Homo sapiens: one gene and its partners. The protein of the gene in region 5 interacts with the protein of the main gene of each other region in a pairwise test. Each region holds a gene or a part of one and is shown on either strand. Other genes may lie near its edges.

Evidence for each region.
Region 1: the proteins of TEAD2 (region 5) and HGF come close enough for resonance energy transfer, tested with the Homo sapiens proteins (one large-scale study listed by BioGRID).
Region 2: the proteins of TEAD2 (region 5) and MAP2K3 come close enough for resonance energy transfer, tested with the Homo sapiens proteins (one large-scale study listed by BioGRID).
Region 3: the proteins of TEAD2 (region 5) and DACH1 come close enough for resonance energy transfer, tested with the Homo sapiens proteins (one large-scale study listed by BioGRID).
Region 4: the proteins of TEAD2 (region 5) and GLIS1 come close enough for resonance energy transfer, tested with the Homo sapiens proteins (one large-scale study listed by BioGRID).
Region 6: the proteins of TEAD2 (region 5) and SAA2 interact in a two-hybrid assay, tested with the Homo sapiens proteins (one large-scale study listed by BioGRID and IntAct).

Annotation. Positions count from the first base shown.
Region 1 is NC_000007.14:81,704,048-81,707,547, forward strand, and holds part of HGF (hepatocyte growth factor isoform 1 preproprotein), read right to left. Parts: intron 3,318-3,500; coding exon 3,243-3,317; intron 2,381-3,242; coding exon 2,240-2,380; intron 1,707-2,239; coding exon 1,600-1,706; intron 1,489-1,599; coding exon 1,343-1,488; intron 1-1,342. UniProt on the Homo sapiens protein: Potent mitogen for mature parenchymal hepatocyte cells, seems to be a hepatotrophic factor, and acts as a growth factor for a broad spectrum of tissues and cell types.
Region 2 is NC_000017.11:21,298,211-21,301,710, forward strand, and holds part of MAP2K3 (dual specificity mitogen-activated protein kinase kinase 3), read left to right. Parts: intron 1-202; coding exon 203-269; intron 270-667; coding exon 668-716; intron 717-2,334; coding exon 2,335-2,448; intron 2,449-2,663; coding exon 2,664-2,783; intron 2,784-3,500. UniProt on the Homo sapiens protein: Dual specificity kinase. Is activated by cytokines and environmental stress in vivo. Catalyzes the concomitant phosphorylation of a threonine and a tyrosine residue in the MAP kinase p38.
Region 3 is NC_000013.11:71,437,466-71,440,835, reverse strand, and holds the end of DACH1 (dachshund homolog 1), read left to right. Parts: intron 1-143; coding exon 144-181; 3' UTR 182-2,870; downstream 2,871-3,370. UniProt on the Homo sapiens protein: Transcription factor that is involved in regulation of organogenesis. Seems to be a regulator of SIX1, SIX6 and probably SIX5.
Region 4 is NC_000001.11:53,729,165-53,732,664, reverse strand, and holds part of GLIS1 (zinc finger protein GLIS1), read left to right. Parts: intron 1-3,500. UniProt on the Homo sapiens protein: Acts both as a repressor and an activator of transcription. Binds to the consensus sequence 5'-GACCACCCAC-3'. By controlling the expression of genes involved in cell differentiation inhibits the lineage commitment of multipotent cells.
Region 5 is NC_000019.10:49,348,917-49,352,416, forward strand, and holds part of TEAD2 (transcriptional enhancer factor TEF-4), read right to left. Parts: intron 2,450-3,500; coding exon 2,385-2,449; intron 144-2,384; coding exon of another isoform or gene 41-143; intron 1-40. UniProt on the Homo sapiens protein: Transcription factor which plays a key role in the Hippo signaling pathway, a pathway involved in organ size control and tumor suppression by restricting proliferation and promoting apoptosis.
Region 6 is NC_000011.10:18,245,869-18,250,127, reverse strand, and holds the start of SAA2 (serum amyloid A-2 protein isoform a preproprotein), read left to right. Parts: upstream 1-1,459; 5' UTR 1,460-1,525; intron 1,526-1,611; exon of another isoform or gene 1,612-1,672; intron 1,673-2,112; 5' UTR 2,113-2,116; coding exon 2,117-2,207; intron 2,208-4,079; coding exon 4,080-4,218; intron 4,219-4,259. Other genes in the region: SAA2-SAA4 protein precursor, read left to right, coding at 2,117-2,207, 4,080-4,218.

The DNA of each region.
Region 1 (3,500 bases), on a different chromosome or scaffold from region 5:
CAAATTTATTTCAGTGGCTAAATTACCTTGATTTAAATGTCAGTGACATATATATTTTTAAAAACATTCTGGAGGATAAATACATTTTTGAGAAGTGGCGGAATCTACTTGAGGTCAAGTCTTATCAATAAAGTTAAAAACAACATATATAGTATACAGATATGAATAATTCAAACTGAAGAGGGAAGTGAAAAATATATAGGTGATAATCCAAATTAAAGGCTATTCTTCAAAAGCAGTTGTCAAATTGGTTTTGGTAATGACAATAATTAGATGATCTGTAAGGTTGGGTCTAGTTAGAAACTTCTGTGTTTCCCGGATGCTTATTGCTTTTTCTTTTTAAAGTATAGTCATTTATTTCTCCTAGTAAATGTTCCCTTGTTATAATGAACAATGGTTTCATTGTTCATGATTTACTAGAAAGGCAACAAATTTGAAACTGGTTATAAACATATAATCTGTTTCTAACCATATCATTTTTAAGCAGTTCTAAAAACTCAGTAAACAGTAAACATTTTCTCTTCTTTTCAGAAATAAAATCTCAGAGCAAGGTGTATAACACTTGCATTTCAATACATATTTATGTTCCATACTTACAGCATGCATTTTCCTACATATCAAAGGACATTTCACTATCATTGAACTCATTTCATCTTTTGCCACACACAGCATTCCACAATCCCACAGCCCTGAAGCTTGGAGAACATGTCTCTCACATTCAAAATCTAACTAAACTAACAGTTTAACAGCTTGTCTATGTAAAATAGGGATAGGAACATTGCCAAGCCGAAATAACAGTTGCCTCACAAATGAAATGTCCAAGCTCGTAAAGTCACAAACTTTGACCTTTAGGCTTTTTAAAATAGAATCTGTTTAAACACATACACAGAGCGAGAGAGCAAAAGAGGGAACAGCTTACCCAAAAAGAGATTTAAAAGTTTAAAGCCAGGCATCTCTGAATGATATAATTAGTGGAGTTCACTTCGAGATAATTTGGGAAGATAAAATAAATTTAGAAAAACATTAGAAAAATGCAAACCATTGATCTAACTGATTTGGATACTTCTCATTTGAATAGCTCTCCCTTGGAGTTCCGGCTCTACACACTTATTATTTTTTGAGTGACAAATGTCATCATAGTTTGCTGCTAATAAAACATTGATTATCTCACTGCTTAGTTGAAAGAAATGCAGAATATTACAGAGTTAATTTTCCCAATTCCTCTTTCCTAGAATAGGTTGGTATACAATATTTTTGATTTGAGAAAAATAAACAGAAAAAAATAAACATGAAACACTAAGCTATGAATCACATACTCCTTATTAAAGAACTTCCTTTTTACCTCACATGGTCCTGATCCAATCTTTTCAGCCCCAGCACATATTTCAGACTCATTCAGAGTCACCTTCCCTCGATGATGCTGGCTGCATTTCTCATTTCCCATTATATAGAGATGTGCCACTCGTAATAGGCCATCATAGTTGATCACTAGATTGATGCAAAAAACATACAATAAGGTGAGAAAAGTAAGAAACAAAGACAAATGTGTTCTTTTTAAAATAAAATAAATATGGCCTCATCTTTTGAAAACTAGCTTACATCCAGTGTAGCCCCAGCCATAAACACTGCAACTGGTCTTTTCAGGAATTGTGCATCCATAATTAGGTAAATCAATCGTACTAACAAAATCATCCAGGACAGCAGGCCTGAAAACACAAAATACAATGGTAAGTACTCTCAACTGGATTCAACACAAAATTAACATATTAAATGTAGTGTTCATGTTTAATATGGCATTTACAGAGAATGAAGTCCTGTTTCTTAAAAAAAAAAAAAAAAAGGTGGGAATGTCCAAATGTAATGATGACATTTGGAATAGGTAGTAAAGAAATGAGTCATGTATTTGCCAATATTTAAGAATAAATGGTCAATGCTATTTTTTAAAATAATTATTTTACATTTGAAAGTTATCAAATAACTGCTGAGTTTCCATTTTAAAACAGACTGATCAGACTGTTGGCCCAATGTTAGTTATTCATTTTTTTACAGTTTTGCAAATACCTTTCTCTCTATACTCACAGAGAGACCCAAACGCACGCATATATACATATATATACAGCATGTAACATATGTTTATAATGCATCTGTATGAGAGAGAACGAACTGCCACACAGCTGAAGAAAATGCTCCAACAATTCTTGTCCAGGTGAAAAATACAAAATCTTCTAAAGTAACTAACCTGGCAAGCTTCATTAAAACCAGATCTGATCCTTCAGGGCCATATACCAGCTGGGAAACATTGAGAACCTGTTTGCATTTCTCATCTCCTCTTCCGTGGACATCATGAATTCCAAGCCAAGCTTCATAATCTTTCAAGTCTCTGTTTTGAAGGAAAAAAATTTAAATGTAAAACATAATAATTCCAAATTCTGTAGTATTATTCCTATCTATTGTTATTTTAGACTATTAAGGCACATAACCTAAATTTAAAATTTGATTCATAGTATAATAAAGAACAACACATTTGTTATGGCAGATTCTGAATACTACAAACATACATAAGCAGAAAGAGGCTTTAAATTGCTGAGATTCTAAATGACTATTTTAGAAACTTGCTTATGCTTGCTAGAAGTCACTTGTGAAAAATGCTCAGGTAAAGCACTTTACATGAATTATAATTTTTTCTGCAAATTTTGCTTTGTTTATGTCAGCTGTGTATATATTTGGTTTGGTAACAGGGGTTGAAGTTTTCTACAAACAAAATCAAAGTGACCTTGCTGAGAAGCAGGAAGGAAGTTTACAAATGCTGCCTCTTTATCTTTTCCTTAGGCTAATTTTCATTGAAAATTATGCCCAGGATGATCCTGAGGCTGACTCTACAGGAGAAAGAAGTAGTGAGGACTGAAAAAAGCCTATTGACAATTTAGAAAAAAAAAAGAATTATATCTAGAAATACAGGGTACAAGTAGAAAGTTGGGATATAAAACATTTACATAATTCTAGCAAAATTTTCCCCAACTGAGGGTAACACTAATTGTGAAAAGAGGTGAACTGAAGTAGTGTCTTGTAAATATCTGTGAAGTCAAAGTAAGTTTTGTAAGCCAAATTCTAAAAATGAAATAATTTGTTCACCCCATTTGTGAATCTCTGTAAAATGAATACATATTATAACCTTAAGAGCAAAGTGGAAGACATACACATTTTAAAGGCTCAAAATAATACTAGTTTTAAAAACACTTTACCGAGAAGGGAAACACTGTCGTGCAGTAAGAACCCAACTCTCCTTTATCAATGATCCTCCGCAGATATGTTTATTTCTGTGAAAAAGAGGAAAGAGAAACAAGTAACATCTGTGCAGAAAGAGTGACTGCCAATTAATGCAAAGCCTGTGGCTCCATTTGTTAAAAATAAATACACTGCAGAGGAAAATATAGAAATTAACCCAACTGGAATAAAATGAGAAGTTCTTTTATCTGAAGGGTGATATTTGGTGATTGTAG
Region 2 (3,500 bases), on a different chromosome or scaffold from region 5:
TCCTGCTCTGCTCCCCTGCAGGGCTGGTGGGCCTCCTTCCCCCTTTGAAGGCCTAACGGCCTGGCTTGGAGAGAGGGGGCTCCCGGCATGGGTGATGGCAGAGGCTGGCACCCTTGTGGGCCAGGGCCTGATGGCTCATGGGAGTGCAGGGGACATTGATGTCAAGGGATAGGCCAGACGCCTCACCTTCTCTCCATTCTAGGAAAATCCAAGAGGAAGAAGGATCTACGGATATCCTGCATGTCCAAGCCACCCGCACCCAACCCCACGTGAGTCTGCCTCAGTTTCTCCCTGGCTCACCCTGGAGAGGCTTCCCGAACAGGGCTCAATGGAAGGAGTGAGAGGCAGGTGGGGCCAGCCCTGCTTTACCTCGTCCTGTCCTGGGCAGCCCCTGCTGTGCATACAGCCAGGTGACGGCTGCTGGGGGTTCATGCAGCACCATTTGCTCTGCTCTGCTCACTTCTCACCCTGTCTTGGAGGCTCGATGAGGCCGTGCCCAGCTCAGTGTAGATGCTCAGCAGCCAGTGAGAGGAGGTGGCCGGAGAAGGCGCCTCCGGGGCAGGAGGCACCTCGTCCCCACGCCAGGCCCCACACTGGCCCATCTACTGCTGCACTTGGGGAAGGGTGTGGTTCTCTCTGAAGCTCACGGAGTCTTCTTTCTCCACAGACCCCCCCGGAACCTGGACTCCCGGACCTTCATCACCATTGGAGACAGAGTAGGTGCCAGCCGCCACCCCTGCAGGGCCTCTCACTTCACCTGACGAGCGGGTAGAGCTGACCCTGCAGGGCCACTTTGGGGGGAGGTGACTGAGGGGTCAGAGAGGGTCAGGCTCTGGAGAAGAGCCTCGTCCTGCGCTGCTGGCTGTGTGGCCCTGGGCCACCCACTCTTTGACCCTCCTGGTGGGAATGAGGACCATCGGCTGCCTGACTGGAGCTTGGCGAGCCCAGAGCTGGTAGGAAGGTTTCTGAGCTGAGAGCAAGGCCCTGCACCTCATCCTAGCCCTAGGGGAGAGTATTGAACATGCAGGCTCCTAGGCCGCCCTGGACCCGCTGGATCACTCCCTCAGGCCAGCACCTGGGCAACCTGCATTTTATGCTTCCAGAAGCCTCGGAAGGGCACTAGCCATTCAGAATCCTGGCTCAGGGACCGTGCTATGCCCCGTTCCTCCCAACAGAAACCCTACTCCCAGGCCAGGTGCAGTGGCTCACACCTGTAATCCCCACACTTTGGGAGGCCGTGGCAGGAGGATCACTTGAGCCTCGGAGCTCGGGACCAGGCCTGGGCAACATGGCGAAACCCTGTCTGTACAAAAATACAGAAAATTAGTCAGCGTGGTGGTGCGTGCCTGTGGCCCCAGCTACTTGAGAGTATGAGGTAGGAGGATTGCTTGAACCCAGGAGGTGGATGTTGCAGTGAGCCATGATCGTACCACTGCCCTCCAGCTTGGGTGACGGAGTGAGACCCCGTTTCAAAAAAAAAAAAAAAAAAGAGCTGGGCACGGTGGCTCACGCCTGTAAGCCCAGCACTTTGGGAGGCTGAGGCGGGTAGATCACCTGAGGTCAGGAGTTCAAGACCAGCCTAGCTAACGTGGTGAAACCCTGTCTCTACTAAAATACAAAAATTAGCCCGGTGTGGTGGCAGGCGCCTATAATCCCAGCTATTCAGGAGGCTGAGACAGGAGAATCGCTTGAACCCAGGAGGTGGAGGTTGCAGTGAGCCAAGATTACCCCATTGCATTCCAGCCTGGGTGACGAGAGTGACACTCTGTCTAAAAAAAATAAACCCCATTCCCTAGGCCTGTCCTTGACGATACTCCCTCCAGGCTGTCGCACTCCCTGACACTCACCATCTGCTGTCCTGTTCATCTACTTGCTTACTCCTTTTTGTGTCCCTCCCAAGAGAGGGAAACATCTGTGAAGGCAATACTTTTGTTTTGTTGTCACTGTGTCCCCAGTGCCTAAAACACATTGTGGATGCTTGGTAAACAGTTTCTGAATGAGTGACTCATTCTAGCCAGCTGAGTGGGGTCGGGAAAAGAGGGACAGGGCACCTCTTTCTCAGAGCTGTACCTGCTGGCGGGGCATTTTGTCTCAGTCACACTCCATAGCAGCCTTGGGGTGTTGGCACTGTGCCTGTTTTATAGAGGGCATCGTGAGGCTCAGAGAGGTTAAGTGACTTGCTGAGGGTCACACAGCAGGGAGCGGTGGATATGAGGTTTGAGCCCAGATCTAATCAGCTGGTCCTCTTCATGCTGCCCAGGTATCTCCACTGGGCATGGGGTGAGGACTGGCTTCCAGCTTGCTGGCCACTGACTCTCTTTTCCATCCTTCAAGAACTTTGAGGTGGAGGCTGATGACTTGGTGACCATCTCAGAACTGGGCCGTGGAGCCTATGGGGTGGTAGAGAAGGTGCGGCACGCCCAGAGCGGCACCATCATGGCCGTGAAGGTGAGCAGGGCCTGGAGGCAGCTGGGAGGGCTCCCTGGAGGAGGCGGGCTGAGCTCTGCCATGGGGCCCTGCCTATCCCTCTCAGTGATCAGTACCGAGGCTAGGCTTTTTGGGGCACACTGGGCAGTGGCCCCCTGAGCTCCTGGCCCTCCTGTCATGAGTGTGGGTGTTGGCCTCTGCCACGGCAACCTCTGAATGGCAGTCCTTCCCTGCAGCGGATCCGGGCCACCGTGAACTCACAGGAGCAGAAGCGGCTGCTCATGGACCTGGACATCAACATGCGCACGGTCGACTGTTTCTACACTGTCACCTTCTACGGGGCACTATTCAGAGAGGTGCGTCCTTGCATGATGCAGCTGGGGATCTCCACCTCCCACCCATCAGTCGCCTGCAACCCACTGTCACTCAGTCCCTCCAGTACGCCAGGTGCTGGGGACACCTGGCATACTGGCAGGAGGCTCCCCCGTCTCTTGGCTGTTACTGTCCTGCTCAGTGCCTCAGTTTCCTTGTCAGTCAAATGAGGCCGGTGGTTGTGGGTGCCTCCTAAAGTTGACACGGAAGGTAAACGACATGGCCTGGGGCCTGGCATTCAGCTGCACTCAGTTCTGTCTGTGTGACCATTCGCATCCCCATGGCATACAGGGCGTGGGAATGGCATATGGGGCGTGGGGTGCCCAAGCAGGCAACGGCCATGGAGATATGAGATCTGGATTCTGGGTTCTAGGTTTGTGGACAGGATGGGGTGTGTGCTGAGAGAGTGACTGAGGCTGGAAGAGTGGAGCTGCCTTCCGCCAAGCCGGGTGGGTGTGGGTGAGCAGGGAGGCCGGGAGCCTAGGCGATGCTGGGCTCATACTGGTCACTTGCCCCTCAAAGAGCTGTGGCAGGGTCAGGGCATCTGAGTCCAGCCATCGGGCAAGGTCAGGGCTGCTTCACCTGTCCTCACTCGTCACTCATGAAGAGCTCAGCATCCTCTGTGCCAGCCCCTAGCCGATGGGGCCCCTGCAGCCTGCGGGTGCCCCCTGCGCATCTCCCAACCTTCCTGTCAGGAGGGT
Region 3 (3,370 bases), on a different chromosome or scaffold from region 5:
AGAAGATATGAAAAATGTTACTTCTTAACCAAGTAAAGATCTAATAAAAACTACAAATTTTATATCAAGTTACATCATTTTTACATGCACATTTGTACCCCAAATACCATGCCATTAATTAATTTTTCACTGTTCATTTCTAGATGGAAGACTGTATTTGAAAACTACTGTCATGTACTGAATCTTTCCTGTTGAAGAAATCCATGTTATAGAAAAGAACTTTGCAGTCAGACATTCGTCATGGGAAAGTTCAGAAAAAAATAAAGTCCTTTTAAGGGAACTTCCTGAATTTTGTGTATTAATGTTCTTTAAAAGTTTAAGTATTCTACAAAAAAAAAAAAAGTTTTCTCCATTGATTTTCACCTGTGGTTCATACCAGAGACCTGAGAATGTTTGTAAATGTACAAGTATCAAAGTTCTTACAGTTAATTACTGCAACTTGCTGCTGGACAATTGTATACAGAGTTAAAGGCAGGTCTGAATAAGACCTAGCTTTGTTTTTTTCTAATGGAATGAACCATTTTCCTCTTCTGAAAATTCTGTATCTGAGCACATCAAGAGACTCTTGTAGCAGTGGTTACCCAGACTTACAGAATTATGTCCTCCAGAAACCAGCAAGAACACTTGGAATGAACGAATGAACTTGTAGGGGGCATAGAGGATTCTTGAAAAAAAAAAATGCAAGAGTGATTTTCTGTTACATTCAATTTCAAACTCTCTAATTGTGGGTTTTCTCCTGAAGAATTTTTTTTCACATACTTTCCAAAAGACCAACAAATGGATGTTGACAACAACCCAATGAAATAACATTTTGCATATCTGAAAAGAAGCATTGAATATAAGCCAAAAGCTTTCACTGAAGGTTTTTTTTTCTTAAAAATAAAAAAAAATATATAAGTGTAACATGTTTTCATTCCAAACTGGTAGTGGTATGTAGAATTAAAGATAATAATGTTGCTTCTTATTCAAACTGTTGGTCATATGTACAGTATATAAACATAAAACACACAAGGAAGGTATTATGTATGCAGTAGTATACTAGAGTTTAGGAAAATGAAAATTTTAGAAAATATGTTTTGTCACCCTGTTGGTCAGAAAGATGTCTTTCTGGTTTTAACGCATGCAGGCATGTAAATATTTGTCTGGAGTCACAGTATTAATGAATGAGATCTTAAGCATCTGGTGACATCAGAACTCTGTGTCAGCCACTTTTATTTGTATATTGAACCCTAGCTAGTGCCCCAAGCTGCACTATTGGGAATGGATTGTGGCTGAACAGCAAATCAAAACACCAGAAATATTTTTATATGTTAACGTCATATTATGTTAATGTTGCTGAAAACAAAACCTAACAAACCTTGATGTACCAGTCCAATACCATGTAGCGCTGAGTGATAAAGTTAAAATGTGCTGTGCTTCCCACCCTTGTCAGAGGGAAGGGTGGCTATGTGTTATTTTCACTGTCTTTTTGAAAGTTACAGTATGTGTTTTCACTTTCGTGCAGATAACTGGAAGTAAAGCGGCAAACAGTGCTTATTACATGCTAAAGTTACCTTCTCTTTGTTTTTTGCATATCTGGAATTACACCTTTAAAGACTGATATGAATCAGTACGGTCACTATACATTTTATGATTTTTCTGTCATCTTAAAATTGTATGATCGTAACATTATTTATTACCACAAAACAGCAAAATCTTCAATGTCTAAGAAAACTAGCTTAAAATGTTTAAATATAGTTCTGATTGGGTATTAATTACTTGATTAAGAAAAAATTAACATTATAGATACTCTGGCATTACGCTTCTATACCTTTTAGGTCTTCCTTGCAATACTGGAACATAATTCTTTTGTGTAGCTCACTATTAGCCAGCTAAGTTCATCTTTTTAATACCATAAAAAGGTTATATGTACAGTTCCTATTTTAGCTTGCTTACAAAGGGAGCATTATTTTTATTTAAAGTATTGCTAGTAAATGATTTGTAGAAACTTGGTTTTCTAAGCATAGTTCTTCCATAACCACCTTTTGTTGTTTGAGCACAAGGGATTCTTTTCCTAGTTCTATGTGTTTGTTTCCCTATATGCAGTCTTTAAAGGATTACAACACTTAAAATTGAATGGACTTGTGTCAAGCTTTTTGCATCATACATTTTTTGAAAGATTTTTAAAAAAGCCTACAACTTACATATGTAGTAGAATCAGCCATTGCTCTGCTCCTGGCATAGAGTCACCTGTTTGTTATGTGGATTAAATAGTTTTAAAATACATATTTGAAGACCTTTGAGAATGCTTTAGTGTTTGATTTGAAATAAAAGGAAATTTTAGCAAGGATTAAAGAAAAAAGCTATCAGCTGTATGTTAAGAGAGACTCTTACTAACATGTTGTAAATATTACAATTCATGAAATGTTATTGTAAGTCTGTAACTTAATTTTTTCCCTGTTTTAGTTATACAGGTTGGTTTGGAAATTTGTGTTTTGGCATAAACAAGTAAAATGTGCCCATTTTATGGTTTCCATGCTTTTGTAATCCTAAAAATATTAATGTCTAGTTGTTCTATATTATAACCACATTTGCGCTCTATGCAAGCCCTTGGAACAGAACATACTCATCTTCATGTAGGACCTATGAAAATTGTCTATTTTTATCTATATATTTAAAGTTTTCTAAAAATGATAAAAGGTTATTACGAATTTTGTTGTACAAAATCTGTACAAAAATCTGTTTTTACATCATAATGCAAGAATTGGAAATTTTTCTATGGTAGCCTAGTTATTTGAGCCTGGTTTCAATGTGAGAACCACGTTTACTGTTATTGTATTTAATTTTCTTTTCCTTTTCAACAATCTCCTAATAAAACTGTCTGAAATCTCCCTGTGACTTTATTTACAGTTCATCTTTATTAAATTTTGTGAAATGCATAGCATTGAAGGAATATTTACTTTCTAATGGGAGGCATCTAAAAACAACACAAGTCAGCTCTTTGCAATGCAAGGGGAACAATGCTCAATGATTTTATTTAACATGCAACTGCTTCTATCTCTAATATGAATTACTGTGGTGAAAAACATCATAAAAGCACACTCTGTAGTTATTGTTTAACAAGCAGATTTTCCATATTTTGTTTCTTGCCAGCTAAGCAAACTGCCCACATATACATGATTTATTTATGTACATTTCTCAGTTTATGAAGCTGTTATTTGTACCTTTTTTCTTTATATTCTTATATTCCCATGATTCTTATTTCACAAAGCTTTGTGCTGAATAATGCAAAGTAGACATGTTGATGGAACAAAATATATTATTCCCATATCTATGAGTGGAGATTTGTAACTCTAACTCAGTGTTTTGCTTTTGATCTCTATCTTTGGAA
Region 4 (3,500 bases), on a different chromosome or scaffold from region 5:
GGGCTTTGAAAACTTGGACTGCATTATGCAAAAAGCACAGCTGTAATACCAGGGCCAGGAAAAAAGACCAAACTCCTGAAATATTTGTGCTGCTCGCCTTCACTGTGCTAATGATTCTAGCAGTTTAAAAACGGACTTCTTGTTTATCAGCAGCCACTGCCCAAATTAATAGTTTACAATGAAAAAAAAAAAAAAGCTTTCAGCATTGGAAGCAAAGTCCAGGGACTGACAGCTGAGTTACTGAGTAAGGAAAGCAGAAAAGAGGGGGAAAAGTAGTTTTGTGGCTACTTTGGTCTCCCAAAGCCATATTTATAAGAAACTGAAAGAAAGCCGAAGGCTGGGCTGGGTAGGGGTGGAGAGAATACAACCCTAACCCAGTGGTCTCAGAGTTGAAAGTCACTTAAAGCATGTTTTCTTCTTTTGCCCTTTTTCCCCCTTAAACTCCAAAGGATTATTCCTTCAGTAGGTTTCCGGTGGATCGAGGCGGATCGTGTTAGCATTACGAGCTGTGTTTTTAAAGTTAGCATTTGAGTCAGATGCGCTGAGAAGAGACCTTTAGTCTGTTAACTGAATAACGCATTTCCTGGATGGCCTGAATTTATTTGGTGGTTATGGTTGGGCCTGCCTGGAGCTAACACATGAGCCATTGTGTAGCATCTTTGCAAGTGGGCCGTGCCCTGTGCTTTGAGCCTTGGTTTTCCCATCTGTAAAATGGAGAGCAGTTCAGTTGGATGATCCATAGTCCCTGCCTGCTGATACTCCAGGATTCCACACTGACTGGGCTGGGAAGGTTTGGAAGGATCTGGGGTGTAGGAAGAGGCCACTTTTGTCTCAGACCAGGTTATACACTGGAACTCTTGACTGCTAAAGATGAACACAGAAAGAATGGGGAAGAGGGAGGTCAACTAACCTTTAGTGAGCGGCTGTTCTGTGCCAGGTGAGATGCTTTAGAGACGTGATCACATTTAATTATGCCCAGCAGCCCTAGGAAGAAAGGAGGCACTGTTCTAATTTTAAAGATGGGGGGACTGAGGCTTGGAAAGGCAAAGTGATTTGTCCAAGGTTGTGCATGTAGTAAGCAACAGAGCCTGGAATTTGAACCCAGGTCTGTCTGACAGCAGAGCCAGTACTTTCCTCTGAAAATACACCACTCTCCAGGACCAGCTTCTTAAACCCAGGCGGCTGGGAAGGAGAGGATGCGGCTCTAGAGAGCTGCGCGCCCCCAAGGAAGCCCAAAGGAAGGCAGCAGGAGGCTGCAGGGGGCCCAGACAGCCACATCCCAGAGCACCCCTTTCTCAGTCTCAGCCAACAGGCTGAGGTGCGACTTACAGGGGATACTCTGCCTCCGTAGGGCACTGCTCCTCTCCCCCTGCAGAACTAGGGAAAGGAGAATGTTCCCAGTGACTCAGGATCCTCAGGAATCTGGGGTCTGGAAAAAGACTCTCTGAGGCCATGGAGGGGGCCCCTAGGAGGGACCGCTTCTCAGAAGCAGTGGCAACTCCCGTCCTGACTGGTTATTGCAGGTAGTAGTCCCTGTCTGAGTCTTTCTTGCCATATGGGGAGATTCCTTGCCAAGGCCCCGGTCGTAGTCTCCCCTCTATGGCTTTCAAAGACATCTGTTGGACGAGAATTCCTCAAGATCCCCACCATGCCTGGTTATAGAATACGTGCTTCCCCAAGCATGTTGGCTCAGGGATCTATTAAACAATTATTTCTTGTTAAACACTTGGTGGGATGAAGTAGGGCTTGGGAGGGAGAACAGGCTGGGGATCAGAGTGAACTTGAGAGTTTGCTTGTGAGAAATGGGTCTTTTGTGTCAAATGATGAATGAGCTAGATGACCCCCCCTATGGAAGGTAAAGGTCCCACGGCTGGTTGCATCTGTGGCCTTGCACGTGCATTCATGAGAATGTGTACATTCTCAGGGAGTCATACTGATTCTGAAGATGGACTTGCAGGAGCCGTTCTGGTCCGAGGTGTTTTTGCCTTCCTACGTGCCGCTGTGTCTGAAGGGGAGTGAATGAAGTACAAGGGATGGCCCTGCCTGCCGTACAGCCCAGCCTGTTCCTATTTGTGTCTTTTTAGCAACCAGATTACTCTTTTAGATGTTACCTTTGTTTTTAAATAACAGGTTTGCTAGAAATCAGGCTTTAGCAAGAAACCAGGGAGTACTATAAACCTGACTTGAAAAATACAGATCCCATTTGCTGTTTTAAGCTCTCCGGAGGACTGGAGATTGGGTTTATTTTGGAACGCTGCTGGACTATATGAATTACTTCTCAGAGGGTTGGGTATTTAATACCTAGTAGAAGTTTGTGTAAGAGTTGATGATGTATTTTGCCAACTTTCCAACCCTGTAAATAAATTACACGTGCCGGCAGAGGTTGCCAGGATCCACTGTGTCAGTTGGAGCTTAATTTTTATCCTAAACCACCGAATACTTTTGTCCTAGCAAGCAGAGAAAGTTACGGAGTTTTTTGCTTGTCACTGGGCCCATCCCAAGACGACGGTTTAAAGAGCCTGAGAATAGGCCTCCGCGGAGTCACTGATTTTGACACCGTTTTCGGTGGTTAAGTAGCTTCAGCAGTCTCAAGTCCAACCCTCAAGGCAGAGAATGATAATATAATTTTAAGCATATCGTAAAAATGAAACTCAATCACTTCCACTCCCCAAACCTGTCTCACTCCCCATCTCTCTGGAGAAAACGGCTGTAATTGTGTGTTTAATCTCAAGACTGCCTTTGCATTTTATCTTATTTGAGTGCAAAGCCCAGGTAATATCGTGGCATTTCCAGCGCGAAACAAAATAGGGTTTCTAATTTGGAGACACTATTAAATATTTCATGCTTCAACCAAACTCAATTCTTTTTTCCTATAATAAGTTTAAATATTAATTCTCTGGAATGTCAGATGCCTAAAGCAAAGCATTTAGTGATCTGCAGTTTCAAGTATCTCGAAGAAGGTTTATGAAACAGGATATTTCACTGGGAGGGATGAGTAGTGTGCTTCAGAGATATGTGAATTCAAGGCATCGTCTTCTGATTTATTTTTTAAAGGGAAAAGGTCATAAAATAAGTTGCTTTATGTGCTGATGGATTAAGTGGCTTAGGCTGAAATAACAGCAGGAACTTTACTATTTTTCCCTGTTTTAACAATGCTTTTTGGGGGAGGGGGGTGGGTCTTTTTCCCGCCTGCTTGTCTCCTCCCTCCGTACCCCCCGTCAACCCCAGCCAGATGGCTTTAATTCTAACCAAATCCCACGCTGAGGCCAAATGATTGATCAAACAGTCATTTGTACTTACGGAGCGCTCTTTGTGAGAATATCTCTGTGCTAGGGCTTCTCGTTGAGGCAGGCTCTTCTTTGGGCCTTCAAACGGATGATTTCAAACAGATCGAGCGGCTTGGTGAGGAGGGGTCCGCGGGTGGATGCGGAGCAAAAATCCCAGACCTCAAGTCCGTAGAACTTCTCGCTTAAAACCTCTGTGTTACTTCCCATCCCTGA
Region 5 (3,500 bases):
GCCTGCCTCCACTTAGAAGCTGAAAAAGCTAAATACTCACTTTCCCAGCCTCCCTTGCAGTTAGAAGTGGCCATGTGACACAGTCCTAGCCAATGAGACGTTAGGGGAAATCTGCTGGGGGGCTTCTGGGAAGGAGTTTCTTCCTGAATGAAAAAGACAGAACTTTGGGAGGAGAAAGCTTTTGGCCCTGGCCAAGTCCTGCTTGGGAGATTGATATGGTTTGGATATTTGTCCCCTCCAAATCTCATGTTGAAATGTGATCCCCAGCTGGGCACGGTGGCTCACACCTGTAATCCCAGCACTTTGGGAGGCCAACGCAGGTGGATCACAAGGTCAGGAGATTGAGACCGTCCTGGCTAACATGGTGAAACCCTGTCTCTACTAAAAATACAAAATATTAGCTGGGCATGGTGGCACGTGCCTGTAATCCCAGCTACTTAGGAGGCTGAGGCAGGAGAATGGCTTGAACCCAGGAGGCGGGGGTTGCAGTGAGCCGAGATTGCGCCACTGCACTCCAGACTGGGGGACAGAGCGAGACTCTGTCTCAAAAAAAAAAAAAAAAGTGTGATCCCCAAGGTTGGAGGTGGGGCCTGATGGGAAGTGCTTGGGTCATGGGGGTGGATCCCTCATGAATGTCTTGGTGCCTTCCCCATAGTAACAAGTGAATTCTCACTCTTTGAGTTGATGTGAGCTGGCTGTTTAAAGGAGCCTGGCTTCGCTCTCTTGCTCCCTCTCACCATGTGACATAGTGGCTCCCCTTCCCCTTCCACCATGGTCCTAAGCTTCCTGAGGCCCTCACCAGAAGCATAGGCTGGCAACATGCTTCCTGTACAGCCTGCAGAACTGTGAACCAAATAAACCTCTTTTCTTTATAAATCACCCAGTTTCAGGCATTCCTTTACAGCAATGCAAATGGACCAACACAGACATGATCCCTGGAGTTGCAACAGCCATCTTGGGACAATAAGACAGACATGAGAGGAACTACAGAGATTCCAGTCCTGATATTGCTAAGCCCACACGGGAACAGCCCACCTCCAGGCTTTTTGTTGCATGGATTCATAACATGAATGCTTTTACTATTTAAGGCACTTTTAATGTGGGTCTTCTGTTACTTGCAGCCAAAAGTATTCCTAATTGATAAATCTATGGAAACTAAGGGACTCCCTCTTTCACTGATGTGAGTTCTCAGGGCCATATCAGCATGGACTTCCAGAAGCCATCTTTGCTGCCAAGTAGCTGAGTCTGCCTGGGAATGAAGCCACCACAGTGGAAAGCAGATCAAAGTAATGACTGATGCCATCACTTGAGCCGCTGGATCCAGCCACGCCTGAGGCCATAATTCTGAACTGTCAGTTACTGGAACCAATAAATCAATACATTTTTCTTATTATTTTTTATTTTATTTATTTATTTATTTTGAGACAGAGTCTTGCTCTGTCGCCCAGTCTGGAGTGCAACGGTGCCACCTCGGCTCACTGCAACCTCTGCCTCCCAGGTTCAAGTGATTCTCCTGCCTCAGCCTCCCGAGTAGCTGGGATTACAGGCAAGTGCTACTGCTACCACGCCTGGCTAATTTTTGTATTTTTTAGTAGAGGTTGGGGGGGGTGGTTTCGCCATGTTGGCCAGGTTGGTCTCGAACTCCTGACCTCAGGTGATCCACCCGCCTAGGCCTCCCAAAGTGCTGGGATTACAGCTGTGAGCCACCGCACCTGCCTCTTCTTTTTTAAAATGTTGCTTCAGCTGGCTTGATTTGGATTTCTATCACTTGCAGCTGAAAGAATCTTGACTAACATACCTCCCCCATGTCTCATAAGCTAGCAAGTGGCAGAACACAAACCCAGTGTGTGGCTGCAAAGACCAAAATCTCCTAACCATCACCAGTTCCACCACTCAGCTCTCCAGCCCCTCCCGGCTCCCCCGCCCCCAACACACACACCCTGCCTCAAAGCTGGGCTTCAGTAAGAATGTATCCCCTAATTGGCCGGGTGCGGTGGCTCACACCTGTAATCCCAGCACTTTGGAAAGCCGAGGCAGGCGGATCACAATATCAAAAGATCGAGACCATCCTGGTCAACATGGTGAAACCCGATCTCTACTAAAAATACAAAAATTAGCCCGGCATGGTGGCGGGCACCTGTAATCCCAGCCACTCGGGAGGCTGAGGCAGGAGAATCACTTGAACCCAGGAGGCGGAGGTTGCAGTGAGCCGAGATCACGCCACTGCACTCCAGCCTGGCGACAGAGGGAGACTCCATCTCAAAACAAAACAAAATAAAACAAAAAAAACAATGTATCCCTCAATTGATGGAAGGTTGAAGGAAAGGCAGTAGGGGTCGAAGAGAGAGAGGGGAGACAAGGGAGGGTGGAGCGCAGGCTCTTACCTGGGAGGTCAGTAGATGGGGGAGTCAGTGACAAGGTGAACGGTGTCTGTGAGAATGGCTTCACACTGAGGGAAAAAGGAAGCCAGGGGTTAGCCAGGTAGAAAGATGCTAATGTCACCAGCAAATGTTTACTGAGAGGCCACAACAAGCAAGACCCTGTGCATTTTGTGCACAATCTCACTGAAGCCTCACAGTGCGTGAGGTAGGTAGAATGACTGCTCTTTTCATTGCACAAATGAGGACAACTGAGGTATAGAGGGGTCAACTGACCTGCCCAAAGTCACACAGTTGAGATGCAGCAGAGCTGGGACTTGAACCCAGGTCAGTCTCAGCCCGGTATCTCAGGCTCTTGATGATGACATTTTGGTATCTCTCACAAAATGTCAGAAAGAGAAGAGAAACCAGCCTGGCGTGGTGGCTCACACCTGTAATCCCAGCACTTCAGGAGGTTGAGGCGGGCAGATCACTTGAGGTCAGGAGTTCGAGACCAGCCTGGCCAACATGGTGAAATCCCATCTCTACTAAAAATACAAAAATTAGCAGAGTGTGGTGGTGCGCGCCTGTAATCCGAGCTATTCAGGGGGCTGGGCCAGGAGAACTGCTTGAACCCGGGAGGCAGATGTTGCAGTGAGCCGAGATTACGCCATTATACTCCTGGGTGACAGAGCAAGACTCCATTTCAAAAAAAAAATAAAAAGAAAGAGGAGAGAAGAGAAACCAAGTCTTGGAAGGCAGGGAGAAGACGCAGAAGACAAGGAATTTGGAGGAAGAAGAGGCTGAGGGGTTGGGAGGGTGGGAAGAAAATGACCAACACTCAGGAGATGGGACAGGAGGCCAAAGTCGGGGTGGGGAGGCAGCACTGGCCAATAGAACTTTCCAGGGATGGAAATGTTCTATTGGATGGAAATCTGTGCCATCCAATACGGTACCCAGTGCCCACATGTGGCTACTGACCACAGACCACGTGGCCACTGAGCACAAGTGTGGCTCATGGACCTGAGAAACAGAATCTTTAATTTTATTTAATTTTAATTTAAATAGCTGCATGAGGCTAGTGGCTACAGTATCAGTCACAGCCCTAGTAGCCCAAGAGATAGTGGTGAAGAGACTTAGATG
Region 6 (4,259 bases), on a different chromosome or scaffold from region 5:
ATTATTTTCACCTGATCTGTGCTGTACCATGTACAGCATGATGTACTATTACTGCTACCCAGTTGGAAACATTCAGCCTCTCTCTGTGAGCTCTTTTTCCCTGGGGATGTCAACTACCCTGCCTAAAATATGTGTGACTGTGTGTGTGGACCCATTCCAGCAGGTACCACTCTCAGTGGTTTTAAGGTGGCAAGATGTAGTGGGGGAGGTGGAGGTGTCAATGCATAGGTCTCAGAACAGAGTCTATAATATCATTGTTCACATTGGAGCCACGCATTTGCTGCTTATGGAGTATTTGGCCATCCTTTACTTCCTGGCCCTACCCATTTCTCAGAGATTAAAAAAAATTTTTTAAGATAATCTTGCTGTGTTGCCCAGGCTGGCCTCAAATTTCTGGGTTCAAGCAGGCCTCCTGCCTTGGCCTCCCAAGTAGCTGGGACTATAGGCACATGCCACCATGCCTGGCCCATTTCTAAATTGCTTGTTTGTTTGTTATTACAAATGCCTAGCCCTCAGGGTATGAACATGGACTGGAGAAGAAGAAACCAGAGTTGCTGCTATGTCCACCAGCCTCTCTGCATGTCCTGGCCTCAGCCCCCCTGGGCTCTGGTACTGACCCATCTCTGGCCACCATGCTCCTCCATAAGCCTCTGCAGAGCTAATCTGACCCTGTTGATGTTCTCATGAGAGAGTGATCTGCATGCCCCCTGCACCCCTCCGTGATAATACAGCAGACCAAGAGCTCTCCCACCCTTCCCTGCCTGGATGCTGGGCACGTCCCCAGCTGGGCTGCCTATTTAACGCACCACACTCTCATTCTCCCAAGGTGGGGCTCCAGGACTAGGCTGGGGCAGCAGAAAGTCCCCCTCTCTACATTGTCCTTGGCTCAGGAGCCAACTTAGAAAAAGCATTTCCAAATTGGCTAAGCCAGCGGAGCAGAGATTTTCTGTGCTGAGAAATATCAGGACATCCAGAGGGGTGGAAGGAGGCTTCCAGGGCACACATGAGATGTGGCAGGGGTAGGCTGTCCGTTTTAAAGCTTAAAGCTTTAGACATGAACTCACAGGGATTTCAGTCAGGGTCATCTGCCATGTGGCCCAGCAGGGCCCATCCTGAGGAAATGACCGGTATAGTCAGGAGCTGGCTGAAGAGCTGCCCTCACTCCACACCTTCCAGCAGCCCAGGTGCCGCCATCACGGGGCTCCCACTGGCATCTCTGCAGCTGCACTTCCCCCAATGCTGAGGAGCAGAGCTGATCTAGCACCCTGTCCATTGCCAAGGCACAGCAAACCTCTCTTGTTCCCATAGGTTACACAACTGGGATAAATGACCCGGGATGAAGAAACCACCGGCATCCAGGAACTTGTCTTAGACCAGTTTGTAGGGGAAATGACCTGCAGGGACTTTCCCCAGGGACCACATCCAGCTTTTCTTCCCTCCCAAGAGACCAGCAAGGCTCACTATAAATAGCAGCCACCTCTCCCTGGCAGACAGGGACCCGCAGCTCAGCTACAGCACAGATCAGGTGAGGAGCACACCAAGGAGTGATTTTTAAAACTTACTCTGTTTTCTCTTTCCCAACAAGATTATCATTTCCTTTAAAAAAAATAGTTATCCTGGGGCATACAGCCATACCATTCTGAAGGTGTCTTATCTCCTCTGATCTAGAGAGGTAAGCAGGGTCGGGCCTGGTAGTACTTGGATGGGAGAACACCTGGGAATACCAGGTGCTAAAGGCTTTAAGAATAAAAAATAATGATCCTGCTTTGTGTTTATCCCATGTTGAGTTCTGTGCGGGGCAGAGGGAACACACGGTAAATGCGTTATGGGGAATTATAGGCTACTTGAGGGAGTGACAGTCTGGTGGTAACTCCTGCCTTCCTCCATCAGTGCCACATTGGCATCCTCTTATGCAGTCAGGCTTCAGGGCTGATGGGTTCAGAACCGAGGGCTTCTGGCTCTGAGTGAGGTCCTGCTGCAAGGTTTCCTAGATGAGCCACTGAGACTCTAATAAGATCCAGTGGAAATAACCAGGCTCTCGTCGGAATATAAGTCCCAAGGGAAGCTGTGCCAGTCTTGTGGGCGACTGCCTGACTTCTCCTTTCATTTCAGCACCATGAAGCTTCTCACGGGCCTGGTTTTCTGCTCCTTGGTCCTGAGTGTCAGCAGCCGAAGCTTCTTTTCGTTCCTTGGCGAGGCTTTTGATGGTAAGGCTTCAGAAGGTTTGCAGGATTTCTGAAGAGAAACATCGCCCTGGACCTGATAAACTGGGGAAAATGATGCTTTCGGAAGGCTGCTTTTGAACCACAGAGTTGCTAGTGTCTGCGTTGCTGAGGCCTGCCAGGAACTAGGGTTTGCTGGGTTGCCTGTCTCGAGTCTTTCAGAGCTGCTGGGAATATCCCCTTTCCCCGTAGTGCAGCTTCTCAGGATGTGTTAAGTGGATGGATCACATTTCAGAAGCCGCTGCAAGGTGTATCAAAAACACATCTCCTGAGCCGTAAGGGACGGGGCATCCAGTAACAACGCACACGGGGTATTTTTGGGCTTCCTTAAGATTTGAGCCGCTGCCTTAGGTTGTGCTGCCCAATGTGCCTGGGGAGCTGCTAAACAGATTAGAGAGTCGAGGATTGTTGTCAGTTACTCAGAGAAAGAACAATCATCCTTTCCAGGAGCACCTGAGCTGTTTGTTTTGAGTAGAAGATGCAAAATAAGGCCTGCAATTGGTATAAAATGTCCCTCAGCATAAATCGCATAGGAGTATGACTAAGGCTGTTGACTCTTCTGTCTTCTTTCTCCTTCCTCCTTCGATTTCCTAGTTGGATAATGTACAGGGCTCTTTAGCCTCGCTCTGTCAGGGGCTCCCTTCCTGGTTTGTTCTGTTTCCATTCTTCCTTCTCCAGCCTTCTTGACAAGAGCTGGGAACTAACGTGCCTCAAGCCCCCACAAGGACCACAGCATTTTCTCATCTAGTTTCAGAATGACTCTGTGAGGCAGGCATCCCTTCTGTGAAGGTGAGAAAGCTGAGACTTAGAGCAGCTGAGGCCAATGCCCAGGGACTTACTGCCAGTCAGCAGGTGGCAGGGCAGAGGTTTGAGCCCGGCTGTGCTTGAGGTCAGGGCTCTTGCCAGGTAGACGCATCACTGACCACCTCCCAGAGGTTGATGGTTATGAATCTCAGACACACCTTGGCATCACCTGAACTACCCATGCCTTCAACTCCCCAGCAGAGTCTGCAGAAACTGGCCTGGGGTGTGGCCTGGGCACTGGGACTTTCAGTTTCTCTCTGGGTGATTAGAAAGTGCAGCCAAGGCTCACGCCTGTAATTCCAGCACTTTGGGAGGCCAAGGTGGATGAATCACTTGAGGTCATGAGTTCCGGAGCAGCCTGGCCAACATGGTGAAACCCTGTGTCTACTAAAAATATGAAAATGTAGCCAGGCGTGGTGGCAGGCACCTGTAATCCCAGCTACTCAGGAGGCTGAAGCAGGAAAATCACTTGAACCCGGGAAGCGGAAGTTGTAGTGAGTTACATTGCTCCAGTGTGCTCCAGCCTGGGTGACAGAGTGAGACTCCGTCTAAAAAAATAAAAAAGAAAAAGAAAGTGCAACCACGGCGGAGAACCGCTGCTCTATTGCTTCCTCAAGCAACCCACAGTATCAGTACAGCCTACTGAGAAAGTGTTTAGGGACTTTTATGCTCCTAACAGTCACTGGAACTCAGGTCACAATGACATGTATTCCATTTGCAAGAATATATACTTTAGTAGTCAGGGCAGAAGTACTCTGTGTCTGCCACCTTTCTCAGCATCAGTATTCCATGTCACCACCTCATTCATATACACTCCTGGATCTTATCATAGGCAGCTTCATTCTATAGCAGTGGCTCTTCACCAGGGCACTTGAAGAAGCCAACTAGGATAAAGGAATGTGCTTCTCAACCCATGGTATCCAAGGCTGCTATGATCACAGGCTGAAAGCTTGAAGTCAGTGGAAGATTTGTCCTTCTTTCATTCCCCTCTAAGGTGTTGTTGGAGTCTTTATGTTCTCCTGATGTCCCTTCTGCCTTTCCTTTCCTTTCCAGGGGCTCGGGACATGTGGAGAGCCTACTCTGACATGAGAGAAGCCAATTACATCGGCTCAGACAAATACTTCCATGCTCGGGGGAACTATGATGCTGCCAAAAGGGGACCTGGGGGTGCCTGGGCTGCAGAAGTGATCAGGTAACTGGAGCTCCTGGGACGTTAGGGCTGGGTGAGCAGAG